Linked DNA regions of Homo sapiens. The protein of the gene in region 2 purifies or fractionates together with the protein of the main gene of each other region. This does not show direct contact. Each region holds a gene or a part of one and is shown on either strand. Other genes may lie near its edges.

Region 1 (4,597 bases), on a different chromosome or scaffold from region 2:
CATAGCAATATAGATTTTAATCAGCAGTGGAGCTCCACTGCTTTATTTTCCACTTTATTGTTTTTCTCCCTTCCCTGAAGGATTTTTAAAGGAAAATGGAAGTGAGATCAGCCAAGCCGATTGTGAAGATCAGTAATTGTTTACTACTATATGTCCCCACTAGACTAGGAGCTCCTCAAGGAGGGCCACTTTGTCATTCTTTCATGTCCCCAGTGCTAGCACAGGGCCAGGCAGGAAGGTGCTCAGGACATGTTTGCTGTGTGAGCAGTCTTGTTGGTTTTCCTGGCTCAGATTGCAACATGCAGGGTATTCAAGCTGCCTTGAGGTTTGGGTGCATCTGTGTCCTTCAGCCAGCTGCCCCGTAATTGAGAGTCAGCAGTAGAGAACAGTCTTTGCTGCATATCCTGCTGTTCTGTGGCAACTGGGACTGCCAGATTGCCATCTAGTATATTTCTGAGTGAACCCAAAGCAGGAGTGAGTGACTCCCTTTGATAATGTCACTTTATGATTCTTCAGGTCCTGAGTAAATCTTTGTCCTGTCTTCAGCACTTACGTCAGGTATTTCACTGTTTGCTGGCATTACCAACAGAAGGGAAACGGTTCTGTCTGCCACTTGTTACTTTAATAAAAGGTTTCTCAGCCTCAGCACTGTTGACTTTGGGATGGGTAGTCCTTGTTGTGGAGACTGTCCTGTGCACTGTAGGATTTTGTTTTTAATTTTGAGACAGGGTCTCACTCTGTTGCCTCAGCTGGAGTGCAGTGGTGCGATCATAGCTCACTACAGCCTCAAAGTGCTGAGCTGAAGCCTTTCTCCTGTTTCAGCCTCCTGAGTAGCTGGGACTATAGGTAGGCACCACCATGCCTGGCTAACTTTTTTGTTCTGTAGAAATGAGGTCTCACTATGTTGCCCAGGCTGGTATTGAACTCCTGACCTCAAGTGATCCTCCCACCTCGGCTTTTCAGAGTGCTGGGATTACAGGTATGAGCCACCGCACCTGGTTACTGTAGGACGTTTAGCAGTATCCATGGCCTCTATCCACTAGATACCAATATCAGCCCCTCAGTCACAACAACCAAAAATGTCTCTAGATGTCATAAATGTCCCCTGGAGGGCAAAATTGTCCCGTTGAGACCCTCTGGCATGGAAAGATGAGAAAGAGAATAAAGATGTAAAATATCCTCTGCAAGAAAAACTCTTAGCTGAGTGTGGTGGCTCACGCCTGTAATCCCACCACTGTGGGAGGCTGAGGTGGGAGGCTCAGGTGAGTCTCAGTAACATAGTGAGACCTTCTCTCTACAAAAAATGAAAACAAAATTAGCCAGGCATAGTGATGCATGCCTGTAGTCCCAAGCTACTTGGGAGGCTGAGGTGGGCAAATTGCTCGAGCCGGGGACTTGGGGGCCGTCATGGAGGCCAACATTGCGCCACTGCCCTCCAGCCTGGCCAAAAAGTGAGACCCTGTCTCAAAAAAAAAAAAACTTTTTATGAAAATCATCTTACCTCCAGTCAGGTACATGAGAGCAAGCCGTGTTAGGTAGCATTGTTTCCTGTGACTGAGTGCCAAAGGAGTGAGTGCTGGGGCCTCACCCTGGCCTGCAGTGCAGAGAAAGGCTCTGAGAAGAGCTGTGGCTCTAGTGTATCAGACCCAACCATGGAGGTGGAGGAAAAAATGCTGTGACACATGTGGCCCTGGTGTAGCTGGAAGAACCCTTGTTGATGGCCCAGAGCCAGGGGCCATCCTGGATGGGTCAGCTGGCATGAGACTCTGAAGAGCCATGTTTGCCCAAAAAGCGCTTCAGTCTGTAGATATAGCTGAGTTATTGAAGGCAAAATATTGGCTTTCAGGAAACTTGCCGTGGCAGTGTATAGTTGGGCTAGAGAGGAGAGACTGAGGCAGGAAGATAGTGTAGAGGTTGTTATTCCCAGCGATCTCCTTTCTAGAAAACTCTTATCTGGTAGTCCGAACTAGAGTGAGTGGTTCAGGAGGGTTGGGAGTGGGGCATGGTGGCTCATGCCTATAATTCCAGCACTTTGGGAGGCCTAGGTGGGAGGATCACTTGAGACCATGAGTTTGAGATCAGCCTGGGCAACGTAACAAGACCCCATCCCTGTAATTTAAAAAAAAAAAAAAGAAGATGTAATCCCAGCTACCCAGGAGGCTGAGTCAGGAGAATCACTTGAACCCGGGAGGCGGAGGTTGCAGTGAGCCAAGATCGCACCATTGCACTCCAGCCTGGGTGACGAGCGAAACTCCATCTCAGAAATAAAAAAGAAGAAGAAAATTTTAAAAGAGGGGTGGGAGCAGATTGCACTTTTATTTTAATTAATTATTTTATTTATTTTTGAGACAGGGTCTCACTCTATTGCCCAAGCTGGAGTGTAGTGGCGCAATCATGGCTCATCGCACCCTTGACCTCCCCAGGCTCAGGTGATCCTCCCACCTCAGCCTCCTGAGAATCTGGGCCTACAGGTGTGCACCACCACACTCAGCTAATTTTTCTGTTTTTTTGTGTGTGTGTGTGTGGAGACGAGGCCCTTATGTTGCCCAGGCTGGTAGCAAATTCCTGGGCTCAAGTGATCCAACTGCCTGAGCCTCCCAAAGTGCTGGGATTACAGGCATGAACCACCACACCGTGCTGGGCCTCAGATTACAGTTTTAATCATGTGAGGCTTGCTGTCTTTGTTCCTTTTTTTGAGACAGAGTCCCAGTCTGGAGTTCAGTGGTCGATCTCAGCTTACCGCAACCTTCCCATCCCGGGTTCAAGTGATTCTCGTGCCTCAGCCTCCCAAGTAGCTGAGATTACAGCCATGCACCACCATGCCTGGCTAATTTTTATATTTTTTAGTAAAAACAGTTTCACCATGTTGGCCAGGCTGGTCTCAAACTCCTGGCCTCGAGTGATCCGCCTGCCTCCGACTCCCAAAGTACTGGAATTACAGACATGAGCCACCGCACCTGGCCTGTCTTTTTTTTGTTTTTTTTTGTTTTTTTTGTTTTAAGCAAAGTCTCCCTCTGTAGCCCAGGCTGGAGTGTAGTGGCACCATCTCGGCTCACTGCAACCTCCACCTCCTGGGTTCAAGCTATTCTCCTGCCTCAGCCTCCCAAGTAGCTGGGATTACAGGCATGTACCATTGCACCTGGCTAATTTTTTGTATTTTTAGTAGAGACAGGATTTCACCATGTTGGCCAGGCTGGTTTTGAGCTCCCAACCTCAGGTAATCCGCCCGCGTCGGCCTCCTAAAGTGTTAGGATTACAGGCATGAGCCACCGAGCCCGGCTGTCTTTGTTCTTAACAGAATGGTGAGAACAAGGGCCCTTAGACATTTGTGACTTGTCACTTGTGGAGTGTCTGGGGGACACAGGAGGCAGATCTTGCTAGTTGGGACCAAGGAAAAGCCTCATAGACCTCAGCAGCAGGTCAGGGACTTGGCCTCCATAGCTAATATGAAAGGTAAGCAGTAGATATCACAGGAGTCACTGGAAATAGCCTGAGTTAGCCTGGACAACATAGTGAGACCCTGTCTCTACAAAAAAAACATTTTTTTTTAATTAGCTGAGTGTGGTGGCATGCGCCTGTGGTCTCAGCTACTTTGGAGGCTGAGGTGGGAGGATCACTTGAGCTTGGAAGGTCAAGGCTACAGTGAGCTGAGTTCATGCCATTGCACTACAACCTGGGCAACAGAGTGAGACCTTGTCTCAAAAAACAAAAGAAAGAAGGAAAGGGAAAGGGAAATGCAAGGAAGAAAGAAAGAAAGAAACGAAAGAAAATAGCCTGAGTTTGAAAGGCCCGGAGACACCCAGGTGGGCTGTGAGAGGGGCCAGCAGCTTTGACACAGCAGGCTGTGCCCACAGAGGAAGCAGACAGCTCTGAGGGATGCAGCACACAGCAGGCCGCCCCGAATGACCGCAGCTGCAGGTGATAAAATGGCTGTCCAGTGGGAGACAGGGACGGGCCATAACTGCTGCTTTGTGCTGTATCTCTTGCTTGTTAACATGTTTGGGTGAATTGACTGCAACAGATGGGCCTTTCAGCCCTCAGCACCTTGGTTTCTAGGCAAGACCGGGGTGACTTGCACCTTGGCGACCCCCTCCCCTCCCTGAGCAGCAGAGCAACCTGCGCATAAAGAAGCCTGAGAAGATTGGAGTGGGACGAGGCGCAGTGCCCTGTGGGGGTGGAAAGAGCTCTGGACTGGCAGTGCAAAGCCAGGGCTAACATCCCTTCGTTCTCCTGATCTTGAGCACATCCTCCCCACTCTGGTGGCCACAGTTTCCTTATCTATTGAATGAGAGGGTTCAATTAGTGTCATCTTGGAAGTTTCTATTGTCTGTATTGTGTGTCCATGATTGTGTCTATCGAGCTACCCTTGATGAACAAAAAATAAAAGAAGAAAAGCCCCTTTAGCAGTTTTCTATCAAAGTAATTGTATGAAACATCACCAGGAATCTCCGAGACCAAATGCTTCTCTCCTGTCCTTGCTGTGTAATATATTTCCTCTTTTGCTGACTGAAGCCAAATTCAACTAAGCAAGTTGCCCTCGATTGTCCCCCACCACCCTATTCCCGCCAGAATATTTCTCTAGAAAAGACTGGTTAGG
Region 2 (4,597 bases):
GCTGGGATTACAGGTATGAGCCACTGCGCCCAGCCAAATATTTGCATTTTACAGATGAAAAAAGTGCTGCATGGAGAGACCTAGTAATGTGTCCAAGGTGTCACAGTCATTAAGTGGGAGAGCTGACATTTGATCCCAGGCAGGCGTCAGCCTATGCCATCCCGTCTCTCCAAGGCAGCCACACACCCTGGGATGACAGGTGAGAGGCCCCGGCCAGACAGGGGTGACGTGAATCACCTCCCTTCCCTCCCAGGCCTGGGGGCTCCTGGCTCCCACTTACTCTGCAGCCTTCCCCAGCCCGTGACGTAGCAGGGGTAGTTGTTGGGTAGAATGGTGCCGGCAGGAGGGAGGCAGGCCAGCTGGATCTTGTCGGTGAGGGAGACGGGGTTAGCCAGTTTGAGCAGGGCAATGTCGTTCCTGGGTGAGTGTGGAGGCGAAGCATGAGGACCGGGTTGACTTTTCCTGCCCTGTGGGCTTTGGAGGGCTTGGAGACCTTGTCATCTTCCCTGTACCCTGTTACCCCAGGTTGCTCTGACTGGCAGGGCCCCAGGGCATGTTTGAAAATGCAGAGGGCCTTGTTGAAAGGGGGAAGGCAGGAGAGATTGTGTCCTACTCCAGGGACAGTCACAGGGTTGACAGCACTGTCCCTGTGTCCCCAGGACCTGGCATGAAGTAGATACATGCTCAGCGGACAGGGGCCCTGCAGGTGTAACTGGCAGCAAACCCAGGTCGCTCTGGCAGTCTTTGCTTCACCCTCCCCAGGTCACATCCCCACCCCAGACATCTTTGGAGCTGGTTCCACATCTAAGAGGCCAGAGCTCCTTCCCCCTCCCTGTAGAAGAAGCAGAGGGGGTGTGGTGTGGTTGAGACCCTTGCCTCTGTGAGACCCCCATCTGTTCCCTGACAACCTCACCCCCAAGTGCACCCAGACAGAAACGAACCCTTTGGAGATTTGGTTGGAGTTCCAGTCCTTGTGCACCACAATCTTAGAGACACTGACTGCCAGCGAGCCGGACTCCGCAACGTAGAGGTTGTGCCGGCCCAGCCCCACGCGGTAGGTCCTGGAGGAGCTGGGAGAAAGGGGGCCCAGGGAGAGGGTCACCTCCAGAGGCCTGGCTTTGGATAATGCTGGGGATAGACCCAAGTAACTGGCTGCTGCGTGAGCCACTAGATGGGACTTGGGGATCTTTCCTCCCCTGGGACAATCAGTTAGTTATAATAGGGCCTAAAGTATATAACCTAAGAACTATGATCATATAATAATTGTTACTATACTAACTATAAACTACAATATAAAATAAAAGTTATAATAACACAAACTCTATAGTTCTTATGGAGGGAATGAGATGAACACAGAGAAAACAGGAGTCATTTGCCCTCAAGGACATTTTTCCCACCTTTCATTTGCAGATGGGGAAACTGAGGCCCAGAGAGGCGTAACCTGGCCCAGAGTCCCACCGTTAGTGAGAAACCAGAACTACAAGCCAGGACTCCTGACTGTAGGCCTCTATTATTTTCCCCAATACCTCCTAGAGCTTATTATAAATCGGATGGGAGAAGGGATCACTCCTGGTAGGGAGTCACGCCGACCCGGCAGAAACTCCGGTGAGTTCCAGCTGTGATGAGCAGAGGTCACGGACAAAGAAGAGGATAAGTGAACAACGTTGCAGAACCTTGTGGGCCTTTATAATTCATCTATAATTCAGAATTAGCTTTCACTGAGCACTTACTAAGTGCCAGGCCCTTTGGTAAATCAACTCATTGAATTCACACTAAATTCTGTTACTCCATTTTTCTGCAGGTGATGGTATTGAAGCTTTGAGAAGTCAGTTAAGTTGTTCAAGGGAACCCAATTCCAGATCCAGAGGCCACATGTAGTTTCCCCAAGAGGGCAGAGATTGGGCCTTCCCCTCCTCTTCATCCTCCCTCAGTGCCTGCCTGGCACAGACACTCCATCCATGCCATGTACTGACATTGATGGGCCAACACACTGAACCATTGATTGACTACAGCTTGTGTCTCAGCCAGTATAGTGGTTATTTGCAAGGCTGCTTTATGTAGCATGGTTCAGGCCATTTGAGCCCCCAGCTCAGAAATGAGCACCAGCTGGTGAGCAGGCCAAGCGCCCAGGGAAAGGCAGTTACCTGATGCAGTGGGCAGCCGTCAGGACCCAGCTGTTGGCTATCAGGGACCCTCCGCAGGTGTGGTACCACTTGCCATTGGAGCTGTACTGCAGGGAGACCTGGGGAGAAGCAAAGGAGCTCTGTGGCTAGGTTTGAAAGAGCAGGGCCTCCCTGCACTCCAGTTTCCCAAGAACGGGGCTGGGACAAGGGTAAGGGGGAGTGAGGCAGTCGCCTCATGTGCACAACTTAAGGCAGCACCCAAAACCTCAGCCATCAAGATAAAAAACGTGTTAATGCAATCTACATGAAAAACAATCAGGCCAGGCATGGTGGCTCATGCTTGTAATCCCAACACTTCGGGAGGCCAAGGAAGGAGGATCACTTGAGCCCAGGAGTTTGAGACCAGCCTGGGCAACATGGTGAAACCCCATCTGATAAGGTTTGGCTGTGTCCCTACCCAAATCTCATCTTGAATTATAGTTCTTATAATCCCCATTTGTCGTGCGAGGGACCTGGTGGGAGGTAATTGAATCATGAGGGTGGTCACCTCCATGCTGTTTTCATGATAGTGAGTAAGTTCTCACAAGATCTGATGGTTTTATAAGGGTCTTTCCCCCACTTTTGCTCGGCACTTCTCCCTGCTACCGCTGCGTGAACAAGGATGTGTTTCCTTTCCCTTCTGCCATGATTATAAGTTTCCTGAGGCCTCCCCAGCCACGCTGAGCTATGAGTCAGTTAAACCTCTTTCCTTTATAAATTACCCAGTCTCAGATATGTCTTTATTAGCCGTGTGAGGCAGGACTAAATACATTGTCTCTACAACAAAAATAGCCCAAAATGAGCCGCTGGGTGCGGCGGTGCATGCCTATAGTCCCGGTTACTCAGAAGGCTGAGGTGGGAGTATTGCTTGAACCCAGGAGTTTGTGAACCAGCCTGGGCACCATAGTGAGAACTTGACCCTACCAAAAAAATTTTAAAATAAAATAAAATTAACAGAGTGAGACCAGGTCTTTAAAAAAAAAAAAAAAGAACTTTAAGGTGGTGACATTTGACACTGTTTTAGTCTCTAATGAAGCTGTTCCATGCCCTTCCTGTTCCTTCATTCCTCCTCCCCTGTCTTTCAATTCCCTGCCACGGCCAAGCAGAGGGGAGGGAGGTGACAGTAGGGCATGGACTGCTCTGATCGGGCTCCCTATAACTGTGGGGAACGATGACCTGTTTGTTGGCAGATGCCTGCTTTTCTCTGAACGTTGTTGTTTTTAATTAGCCATTTGGCATTTCTCGTTTGTGTGACATTAAGAGGTCTTAAAAAAGATGTTTAAAATTAGAAAAAGTGAAAAAAGATACTTAAAAGGATGTACCCCCCCCCCAATTTAAAAATGTGCTGAAACCATCGTACAGATGTGAAATTTAGCCCACATAATACGTATTATGTGTGGCCAGCAAAGTGTAGCTAAAGAGGTAGCACTGAACCAGATTTGAATCCTCATTCGCCCCCCGGGCTAACCCAGTGCCTTTGGGGAATTCTGTAACCTTTCCAAGTCCCAGTTGCCTTCTCTGGAAATGGGGAACATAAGCCACTGTGCAGGGCTCTCAGGGTGACTCATACTGTAATTAAGCCTGGGTGACAGAATGAGACTCTGTCTCCTGGAGAAGAAACAAAATTGCATTAAAATATCATTCATCTTCGTTAGTGAGGTTTTTTGTTTGTTTGTATTTTTTTTTTTTTTTTGAGATGGCTATCTATGTTGCCCATGCTGGTCTCAAACTCTTGGGCTCAAGCAATCCTCCTGCCTCAGCCCCTTGAATAGCTGGGATTAAAGGTGTGTGCCACTGTTCCTGGCTGGTTGCTGAGTTTTGTGCTACCCCCTTACATTTTGCCTCCAGAGTGAATGTCTTACTTGCCTCATCTGAGTCCCCACCCAGCTAGATCTGCCTTATTTCCGCAGGGAAACAGAAGCACAAAGCATAGGGACTCTTCATGGATTAACATTCACTGGTTCTCAAGGCAAGAATACTTTTGTGCAAGAGGGTGAGGAAGTATTTTTGTAGGCAGCAATGATTAGTTCTTAGCACAAATGCGCCCGGTGTTATGGGGCCCTGTAGCAGAGGGACTGTGGCCCTTCTTCCAAATTCTCAGGGAAAAAATACTGTGGGACTGTGAGAAAAGCAAAAGAACTGGCAAAAGCACACAAAGCCAAGTATATAAATTGTGAGGCTGGGTTGAGAGGCTCACGCCTGTGATCCCAGCACTTTGGGAGGCCGACGCAGGAGGATCACTTGAGCCCAGAAGTTCAAGACCAGCCTGGGCAACATAGTGAGACCCATCTCTAAAAAAAAAAAAAGAAACTTAACCGGGTGTGGGGGCATGCACCTGTGGTCTCAGCTGATAGGGAGGCTGAGGTGGGAGGATCGCTTGAGCCTAGGAGTTCGAGGCCGCTGTGAGCCATGTTTCACCAGCCACTGTACTCCAG
Region 3 (4,597 bases), on a different chromosome or scaffold from region 2:
CCCCTACTTGACGCTCTCGGGCCCTGGACGCACGGTGTGGCCCTGTGCCCTTTGCGGCTGCCCACTGCCCCCTCCTCTGCAGCTGCCCACCACCCCCTCCCTCTTCTGCAGGCCCCTTGCACTGGCTGCTCAGAGTGCCCTGGCCCGACCTCGGCACAACCGTCCGCCACTCACTGGGTCCGCAGGGTGAAGGCTGCACTGGTGATGGACGTGGGCAGGTTGAGGCCCTTGGTGATCTCACGCCACAGCTTCTTGTTGATGACCTCCACGAGGCCGCCCTTCTCCGTCACCAGCACGTACAGCATGAACAGGTCAAGGACCTGTTTGGCCATGATGGGGATGCGGTTCACAGGTGTCCCTGGGGGAAGGGGCGAGAGGGAGGTTGGGGGCCACCTGGGCACTGCAGGGAGCCGAGTGTCCTGGCCTCCGCCCTCTCCATGCCAGGAGCACTCCCCCGCCCAGGCTGTGACAACCACAGATGTCTCCAGACATTGCCCAGGGCCCTCTGTGGGTGCAGGATCATCCAGGCTGGGAACCTCTGCTCGAGAGGGTGCAGAGGGGGCAGCTCTGCCTCGGTTTATCCACCAGTAACCTGGGCTTAGGGACAGCGCAGCCCTCGGGAGGAGGGTTACTGAGAGGAGGGACGTGCGGGAGACGCCCGGATCTTTGTTATTCCTTCTCCACGCCACACACCACGGCAGCTGCCAAAACAACTCTGCCTATGTTCCCAGAGGCCTGTTCCCTCCACACTGACAGGGGCTCTGCAGCCTCAGGCAGGCAAGGGGTAAAGCCTGGCTTACCCAATTTCAAGTCTGGAGAATGGAGGGCTGTGGACTGGCCTAGGGAGGGGAAGGGGATGGGCTAGCCCCGACATGGGGGGTTGGGCTAGCCCAGGAGGAGAGGGTTGTGGGCTACGCTATGCCAGGGAGGGAAAGGGGGAGGATTAGCCTAGGCAGGGGAAGGGCGGTAGGTGGGCTGGCCCAGGAAGAAGAGGCGGCTGGGCTGACTCAGGTTCCTGCCCCTCAACTCCTGGAGCCGGCTGCAGACGTGGCCCCTCCCCGCCCTTCCAGCCCTACCTGCCCCCTCCAGGGCTCTCCCAGGCTGCCCCTGCACCAGGAGCCTCTGGCTTCAGATGTCAGCTCCACCTCTGCCCAGCCCCTCCCTGGCCTGACAGTAGGCAAGACCCACTTAAACCTATCGTTCTGTCCGTGAAATTCTGCACTTAGGAGATCAATTGTGTACAGTCTGTGGCCCCCACCCCATGTTCTGCCTACGTGGGGTCCCAGCACTCAGTGGCATACAGTAGGCGCTCAGTGAAGACCAGTGAGGGCAGGTGGCCCAGGCCATAGCTGCTGCCCACTCACCATGGGGTGGGAGGGGACGCCCATCGCCCTGTTAGGGATGGGGACGTGGACATCGAGGTTCTGGGATGTGACTGGCTGGAGAGCGGGTGCAGCCCTGAGTGAGCAGCCGGCCCTCTGCCTGGTCGAGGCCTGCTACCCCCGGAACCCCCGGTGTCTGACCTTCCAGAAACACCTCCCACCACCCTCCGCCACTTCCAGGCCCTTCCCAGGTTGCAAAACCCCCAGTGAATGGAGGAGATCCCAGGTTGGAGGAAGACGGGCCTCAGACCCGATCCCACCTGAAACCCACTTTACAGCCTGGGCGAGAGGAGCCGCGCCGGGTTTCAGCTGCAGGATCGGCCCGGAAACCTGCCCAGAGCCTCCGCCCGGCCCCACTCGGGACACCAGTTTAGGCCTCAGAGTTTGCAAAGTAAAAGTAACGGCATCAGGCCGGGCGCGGTGGCTCAAGCCTGTCATTCCAGCACTTTGGGAGGCTGAGGCGGGCGGATCACCCAAGGTCAGGAGTTCGAGACCAGCCTGGCCAATAGGGAGAAACCCTGTCTCTACTAAAAATACAAAAATTAGCCGGGCGTGGTGGCGGGCGCCTGTAATCCCAGCTACTCAGGAGGCTGAGGCAGGGGAATCACTTGAACCTGGGAGGTGGAGGTTGCAGAGAGCCGAGACCCCGCCATTGCACTCCAGCCTCAGCAACAAAAGCAAAACTCTGTCTCAAAAAAAAAAAAAAAAAAGGATCAGCAGCAGAGGGTTGGTTCCCAGGGCCACGCCCTGGCTCTGCAGTGGGCGGGAGGAGGATGTTTACAGAAGGAGCTGGGAGCATCACCAGGGCCCGTCGTGGGGCCCAGATAAGGAAGGGTGGGGAGGTTGTCAGGGAACAGCAGGTCAGGTGGTCCAGCTGCTGCTGCTGAGGGGAGAGGGTGTGGTCAGGACCCCTCCCTCACTTCTAGCCCCCAGAGAATTCTGAGAAATTTAGTTAGAGTTTTTTACTTTGTGACACAGGGGAAAAAAAAAATTATTTCTCTCTGTCTGGAGTGAAGGAGAGGAAGATTGTGAAGTCTAGGGTGATGGGCAGGTTCACCTGACGGATTCTCAGCTCCAAGGGCCCCCATTACAGAGCAGGAAGCTCCTGGAGGAAGCCAAGGAAGAGGGAGCTTTGAGGCTGGGTTTTGAGGGACGCATAGGAGCTCGCTGTCTCCTGTCCTGTAGGAATTCCCAGCTTGGAGAGGGAGGTAAAGCTGGACACCAACCCTCACGGCCCCACGTGCCACGGGCCCCCATCTCACCCACACTCATGAGCAGCCTACCATGCCTGCTTTTTGTTTGTTTGAGACGGGGGCTCCCTCTGTCACCCAGGCTAGAGTGCAGTGCTGCAATCTCGGCTCACTGCAACCTCTGCCTCCTGGATTCAAGCAATTCTCCTGCCTCAGCCTCCCAAGTAGCTGGGATTACAGGCGCCTGCCACCACGCCTGGTCAATTTTTGTACTTTTAGTAGAGACGGGGTTTCACCATGTTGGCCAGGCTGGTCTTGAACTCCTGACCTCAAGTGATCCACCTGCCTCGGCCTCCCAAAGTGCTGGGATTACAGGTGTGAGCCACCATGCCCAGCCCTCACCGTGCTTTCTAAGTACCCCCAGGACACCAGGCACTGTACCAGGCACGGGTAACAGCAAAACGGGTTGGCTTTGGACCCAGGAGCTCGGAGCCCCACAGCAGAGTGGTCAGGGCTGAGCAGGTGCGAACAGGATGATAAAGGGTCATGGGGAGGATCTGTCCAGCCTCACAGGGGGCAGTGGGCCCTGGTCAAGCCTGGCCTTGGAGGATAACACAGGAGGGGCCCCCGCCCAGGTCCCGGGTCTGGATCCTCTGTTCCCAGCACGGGAGGGGTTAACTCGGAGGCCGCTGGGCAGTGTGGGCCAGGGGGCCCACAACCCTCCTCCTCCTTCCCTTCCGGGCGGCTGGCAGTGGCGGGTCTGGGGCCTGTGTTTATAGAAGCCAGGGGAGGGGTGGGCGGAGGCTGGGACACAGCGGGCCCCTGTGACGGCCCCAAGTGCAGGGACAGAGCCCTCTGCCCCACCCCTTCCGACCTCTGTGGGCCCCAAGGCCTCCTCCCCCGTCTGAACAGTGGGGATCGGAGCTAGCTCCCTGCCCTAGAGGAGTGTCCAGGGGGGTTGGGGCGGCTCCTACCTGGCAGCAGACGCTCCTAGGACCCTCTCCGGCCGACGAGGACTTGGAGGCGAGACGGAAGCCCTTGCCGCACTCTCTCTGCCCCGTGGTCACTCTAAGCTGGGGTGGGGCCTGGGAATGGCCGCTGGGACACCCCGGCTACCCTTGGTCGTCTGAGTCTGTCTTGTGTCTGGACCTCAGTTTCCCCACCTGGACACCAGCCCAGACCTGCCCTCTCTAGGCCAGGAGACTTTGGGGGCACAGAGCCTGGTATACCGTTGGTGCCCAATAAGTGTGCACAGTAAACAGCGGCCCTGCACTCAGCACATCTGGGGTACCTGCTGGCCACTGAGTTTTGGGCAGGGACTGTTTGTGGCCCGTTTTTACAGATGGGGAAACTGAGGCCCTGGTGGGAAGAGGGGAGGGGCCAGGACTCAAATGTCGCATTGGCCGCCATGAGATCATTAGACTCTAAGCCATCTCGCGGCCGGGCGGGGGGCTTCTGTCCTGCCGCACCTGCACCCACCTGGCCAGCCCGAATCTGACCCCACTCCCTAAACACAGAGGCTGGTTCCACTCCCCCATTACCCAGTAGTGGGGACCCCCACTTCACTGCACCCTGGATGCTAAGGAGATGACCTGGACTGTCTGTTCTGGGTTGGGGCCCTGAGACTGCCCTGCCCCCCACCAAGGGACCTACCCCTTAGACTCACAGGCGTGCCTCCCGCGTCAAACCTCCATGGCAGGATGTGTTTCCCCCCAAGACACCCCTGAAGTCCCTCCCGATTTAGGAGCCTTGGATGCCTCCAGCCACGGGGTGCTCACCACCGCCCCGACATACCTGGAGCCAGTAGGGCCCCTCCTACAGCCCTGTTTCTGTGACCTCCCTCCAGCGGGGTGGGGGCAGAGGGCTCACCTCGCTTCTGCATGAAGCTGAACAAGTCATCCAGGAATTCCTTCCTCTTGGGGTCCCCGTCGAGTTCGTAGAGCTGTGAGGGTGGAGAGGGGATGGGTTAGTTGGTGCCAGAGCTCAGGTGTGGGAACCATGTCCCTCCTGCACTGGAGGCCAGGT
Region 4 (5,321 bases), on a different chromosome or scaffold from region 2:
CCACCATGCCCGGCCTAAATTTATACATTTTTCAAAAGAAAATGTCAGCCCAAAATATTAAAAACACAACTAACTAGGGTTTCTGGGTTGGGTTCCTGATCTGGGTGCCGATTTCACAAGTGTGATTGGCTTGTGAAAATTTACTATGCTGTCTACTTAAGACATGTGTTAAATAAAATTTATAGCAAGTTGGGCATTAGGCCCAACAGAACAAACCAAAATGGAGTTTATTGATGTTGCCATGCCAAAATTAAAATCTTTATCTGACCATTCAATAAACCAGGAGAGAGAGAAATAATAGCCAAGTCTGCAAACAGTCCATTTTTAGCCAGCATGATAAAGAAGTCCTCTCTGCTTTAACCTTATAAGAAAAGAAACTTTGAAACAAACAATCCACTTTTAGTTTTCTGTTTCTCTCTTTTTTTTCTTTTTTGAGATGGAGTCTCGCTCTGTCACCCAGGCTGGAGTGCAGTGGCACGATCTCAGCTCACTCCAACCTCTGCCTCCTGGGTTCAAGTGATTCTCCTGCCTCAGCCTCCTGAGTAGCTGAGATTACAGGTGAGCACCACCACGCCTGGATACTTTTTGTATTTTTAGTAGGCATGGGGTTTCACCATGTTGACCAGGCTGGTCTTGATCTCCTGACCTGGTGATCTGCCTGCCTCAGCCTCCCAAAAGTGTTGGGATTACAGGAGTGAGCCCCCGCGCCCTGCCTCTGCGTTTCTTTTCTGTCTATGAAATTATCCCGATTGTTCTGCTCATTGGAACACTGTTTCTGCTTTATAGAATGAGACGTTGCCCAATTCTAGAATAGCAGGTAAAAGTTAATTAAGATCTTTAAACTAAATTTGTTGTAATTTTGTCTTTTGACATGTAATTTTCTGTATATTCGTTATACTTCAATAAAAAGTTAAAAGAAACATAACTAAATTTCTATTTGAAAACAGAAGCTCTTCCTTTTGAAGGATGCCTTGCTGCTCCACTTTCCATTCACATTCACCTCCTGAGAGAGGTGAAGATCTGGGTTGCTAAGATGGAAGAAAGGTCAATTATTTGCATGTTACTCAAGTGATGCACTGACACAATATTCTCACAGTTCTCCCTCCCCCCGCCCCCCCCCACACACCCAAAAGAATTCAGTGTATTAGCTTTGCTTTTTAGTGATTCACTCAAGCTAAAGTAAGAGTTTATGTCTGGTATTACGTTGAGAGCTTTTGGAAGATTATCTTCCAGGTTGTCTTTAGACCATCTTTGTATCTGGTTTTTGCTCTCTTTGCTTTTGCTCTGAGATTCTGCAACACCGATTTATATGTGTTGAGACAGTCTAAAAAATTCCATTTCTCCCCTTCTACAATTCCTGCAGATGTTACTCACTATATGTCTGCAGGAATTGGTGTAATCTTACACTCTGCCTTGAAAACACCTTTCCATTCTTCACAGCTTTGTTCCCAGTTGAATTTCTGGGGAGAATTGAGTTAGGTCTATTCATTTAATTTGGGAGAAACTGACATCTTTACAATTTTTCCTCTTTTCACCCAGGATCATGGTAAGCCTCTCCATTATTTGAAGTCTAATTTCATCCTACTTGGATATGCTTCTTTATGACTCTGTAGCTTTCTACATATAAGTCCTACATCTTTCTTGTTAGAGTTTTTCCTAGTTGCTTTATGTTTTTTTGTTGTTGTTGCGATTGTTGCTATTGTGAATGGAACCTTTTTTTTTTTTCATTCAAAAATGAACCCGTGGAGCGATAGGATCTCTACCACCTCTTTCGGCTGTGAGACTCTATGGTTTTTCAGTTCTATGAGAACATTCTACTGGAGCCTACATTATCTGAACCCAAAGGAAGATGGCAACCACGAGTCGCCAAGTAAAGGACCGCTCTATCTCGCCTTTGTTCTCCTCTCGGTGGTTACTGCGCAGACGTAGTCGCCCAAGTCGCGTCCCCGCCTTCCCGGTCGCGGGCCCAGCTCGGGAGCGCCGGCGCACTGGCGCGCTCCGTTTACACGCTCCGGGGCCTGTAGGCGCCGCGAGTTCCGGCTGTCGCCGTCGCCGCCGCGGCTCCTGGAGGTCGGTTGCGACGAGTAACGGCGCCAGGACGAGCCCTGCGCCTTCTTTTTCGATATGTACCCGAATTGGGGCCGGTATGGCGGGAGCAGCCACTATCCGCCGCCACCGGTCCCACCGCCGCCGCCAGTGGCGCTTCCTGAGGCCTCGCCGGGGCCCGGGTACTCGAGCTCGACGACTCCCGCGGCCCCCTCCTCCTCGGGCTTCATGAGCTTCCGCGAACAGCACTTGGCGCAGCTCCAGCAGCTGCAGCAGATGCACCAGAAGCAAATGCAGTGCGTGCTTCAGCCCCACCACCTTCCTCCGCCCCCTCTGCCGCCCCCGCCAGTGATGCCGGGGGGCGGCTACGGAGACTGGCAGCCGCCACCGCCACCGATGCCCCCGCCACCCGGGCCGGCCCTCAGCTATCAGAAGCAGCAGCAGTACAAACACCAGATGCTCCACCACCAACGAGACGGGCCTCCTGGTTTGGTTCCAATGGAGCTGGAATCCCCCCCTGAATCTCCCCCTGTGCCGCCTGGGTCCTATATGCCCCCATCTCAGTCTTACATGCCCCCACCTCAGCCGCCACCCTCTTACTACCCCCCGACCTCATCTCAGCCCTACCTGCCTCCTGCTCAGCCGTCCCCTTCGCAGTCCCCACCTTCCCAATCCTACCTGGCGCCCACCCCTTCTTACTCATCCTCCTCCTCTTCCTCGCAATCCTATTTGAGCCATTCCCAGTCCTACTTGCCCTCTTCTCAGGCATCTCCTTCCCGCCCCTCCCAGGGCCATTCTAAATCCCAACTACTAGCTCCACCACCACCGTCCGCCCCCCCTGGAAATAAGACAACTGTCCAGCAAGAGCCTTTGGAGAGTGGGGCCAAAAACAAGAGTACTGAACAGCAGCAAGCCGCCCCTGAGCCAGATCCCTCTACGATGACTCCACAGGTAAGAAAGCATCTGCCTGAACCTCATCTTTCACCTAGAGGGCCCTGAATGAGCAGGCCTCAGGGCTTTAACCAGTGGTTAGTCTAATTCCAACACACAATGACTAGCTAACACTCCAAAGGATTCCGTAAGAGTCAGAGGGCTGACAGCTCAGCTTTTTAATTAGCTAGATGTGAATTACCAAAAAAACAGCGTTTGTAGATGTGTATGGATTACATACAGTGGTGGGGTGGCTCAAAAGTTACCTCTCAGATACATTCCTTGGTTTCTTTGACCATCCTCTTAGATTTTGTTGCTGTTGCAAATAGATTTTGTTGCAGAGGGTCTTGTTTTAAAATTGTATTTTAAACGAAAGTTTCCATTTGAGAGAAAGCATGAAAAAGAGGCCTCGCCAAGGGCTGACACTTGAATGTTTGTAAACTTTATGATTAGTTAGCTTCTTTTAAAAATATTACTTAGGGGCCAGGGATAGTTGTCAGCTTCCTGAATTAAGAGGTTTCAGAAAAAGGATGGAAATCTTGTCTTACCAGGAGCATCCTAATTATGCTTATAGGTACATATACAATACATAGATGAGTCCCGAGACCCTTTTGGGGATCGATTGGTCCATTTTAGGAATTGACCCAGACATCCTTTTCTCATATTATTTAAAGATTGTTTTAAGATAATGAGCAATTTTCTGCGTTTCATTGTCATTACCATTCACTCCAAAGAAACAGCCTTGCAATTTGGCCAACGTAAAAAAAGTTTGGTGATATCTTTTCATGAGAGAGTCAGCCATTCTTATCCCGCAGAACAGACAAATTGACAGGGTAACAGTAATAAACGAGTTCCCCCTTGAGAGAGGGAAGGTCAAACTAAAGCAGAATAAATCAATTGTTATGATTTCCTAAAGTAGACACTTTTTCAGCGATTACTAATTTACCTTAGATTCACTAAGGAAAAAAGAGAATCTTGTAATATAAACGCTCAGATTTACCTATAAAAGATTTCCAAAAGATAGGGATGCAGTATTATAATTTTACGGTGGTTTGGCATTAGAAATTAAGAACAGAAGCAAGTTGTTTTAAGAAATGATGCTTGGCACATCTTCTGGAGAAAACACTTGGGATGCTGAAATAAAGTAGTAGAATAATGATTCTGTTGGCTTACATCAAATTTGTACCATCTCACCAGTTTATTTTCCCCAGATTGCTCTATTATAGAGACAGACTTTCTGTCCTCTTTCCCACCCCACTCTGAAGTCTTTAGTGCTTTTGTTGTCAAACATTCTCAGTTAGTCTGAGCCAAAATAGGACATTTATATTCTCACTCTACTAGACTGTTTTTCTGACCTTACAGAGAGACAAAATAATTGTATTTTTGGCTTTTTTTGGGAGGAGTGTGTGTGTCAGATCAGGCCTTAATATGTATAGTTACCATGAACAGTGCTTTTACTTTTCTGCCTTTGTACCCTTTTCTGTAATGAACTCAGTGTCTTGAATATTCAGTGCCTGCAATTCTTTGGTGAGAGGCAGAGTGGTGGAAAATGAGACTTGTGGTGCACATAGACCAGATCAAGAAGAGCCTTGAAGCCTGTGGCTTTCTTTCTTCTTTTTAGAATTCATCCTAACCTCCTCAACCCTCTGTTTCCCCTTAGAGTTGTATTGCTTTCAAGGCATATCTCAAATATCAAGGTTTCCATGAAGCCCTGCTTGTGCTCACCCATCTGGTTTGGTTCTGTTCTTCAGATTGTAAGTCCCTTGCAGACAGGAATTATCTTACTTATCTTCTTATTACCGTAGCACCTAGGACAGTGCCTTGCAAATTGTAGGCTCTCCACAGATTTGTTGAATAAAATACGAGAGTTGTCATGTTCTAGACTTAGGATATGTTGGTTTATTAGATGATAAATATTTCTTCATGCCAGTACCAGTCTCTGGCAATCCTTCTACATATTTATTATTCTTTGATTCATATTTTGTTTTTGGAATGTGTCATTCAAAATTTCTTATCGTGAAATATTTTTAAAATACACAAAATAGAGAAAAAAGTATGATTCCCCATACATACCCATCATTGAGATTCAACAGCTATCAAGATTTTGCCATGTTTACTTCACCTAGGCCTTTTTTATTATTGTTGCATATATATATATTGAGACAGGGTCTTGCTCTGTCAGTCACCCAGGGTGGAGTGTAGTGGCATAGTCTCAGTTCACTGCAACCTCTGCCTCCCAGGCTCAAGCCATCCCAAGTAGCTGGGACTACAGGTGCATGCCACCATGCCTGGCTATTTTTTTTTTTTTTTTTTTTTGGTAGAGACGGGGTTTTGCTATGTTGCCC

The links. The genes of interacting proteins can lie anywhere in the genome.
Region 1: the proteins of CELA2A (region 2) and ARID3B purify together in Homo sapiens (affinity purification with mass spectrometry; one large-scale study listed by BioGRID and IntAct). This does not show direct contact.
Region 3: the proteins of CELA2A (region 2) and ARID3A purify together in Homo sapiens (affinity purification with mass spectrometry; one large-scale study listed by BioGRID and IntAct). This does not show direct contact.
Region 4: the proteins of CELA2A (region 2) and YLPM1 purify together in Homo sapiens (affinity purification with mass spectrometry; one large-scale study listed by BioGRID and IntAct). This does not show direct contact.

Annotation. Positions count from the first base shown.
Region 1 is NC_000015.10:74,575,194-74,579,790, forward strand, and holds part of ARID3B (AT-rich interactive domain-containing protein 3B), read left to right. Parts: intron 1-4,597. UniProt on the Homo sapiens protein: Transcription factor which may be involved in neuroblastoma growth and malignant transformation. Favors nuclear targeting of ARID3A.
Region 2 is NC_000001.11:15,459,206-15,463,802, reverse strand, and holds part of CELA2A (chymotrypsin-like elastase family member 2A preproprotein), read right to left. Parts: intron 2,243-4,597; coding exon 2,145-2,242; intron 1,071-2,144; coding exon 942-1,070; intron 418-941; coding exon 281-417; exon of another isoform or gene 55-280; intron 1-54. UniProt on the Homo sapiens protein: Elastase that enhances insulin signaling and might have a physiologic role in cellular glucose metabolism. Circulates in plasma and reduces platelet hyperactivation, triggers both insulin secretion and degradation, and increases insulin sensitivity.
Region 3 is NC_000019.10:960,009-964,605, reverse strand, and holds part of ARID3A (AT-rich interactive domain-containing protein 3A), read right to left. Parts: intron 4,515-4,597; coding exon 4,442-4,514; intron 359-4,441; coding exon 175-358; intron 1-174. UniProt on the Homo sapiens protein: Transcription factor which may be involved in the control of cell cycle progression by the RB1/E2F1 pathway and in B-cell differentiation.
Region 4 is NC_000014.9:74,761,366-74,766,686, forward strand, and holds the start of YLPM1 (YLP motif-containing protein 1), read left to right. Parts: upstream 1-1,950; 5' UTR 1,951-2,124; coding exon 2,125-2,997; intron 2,998-5,321. UniProt on the Homo sapiens protein: Plays a role in the reduction of telomerase activity during differentiation of embryonic stem cells by binding to the core promoter of TERT and controlling its down-regulation.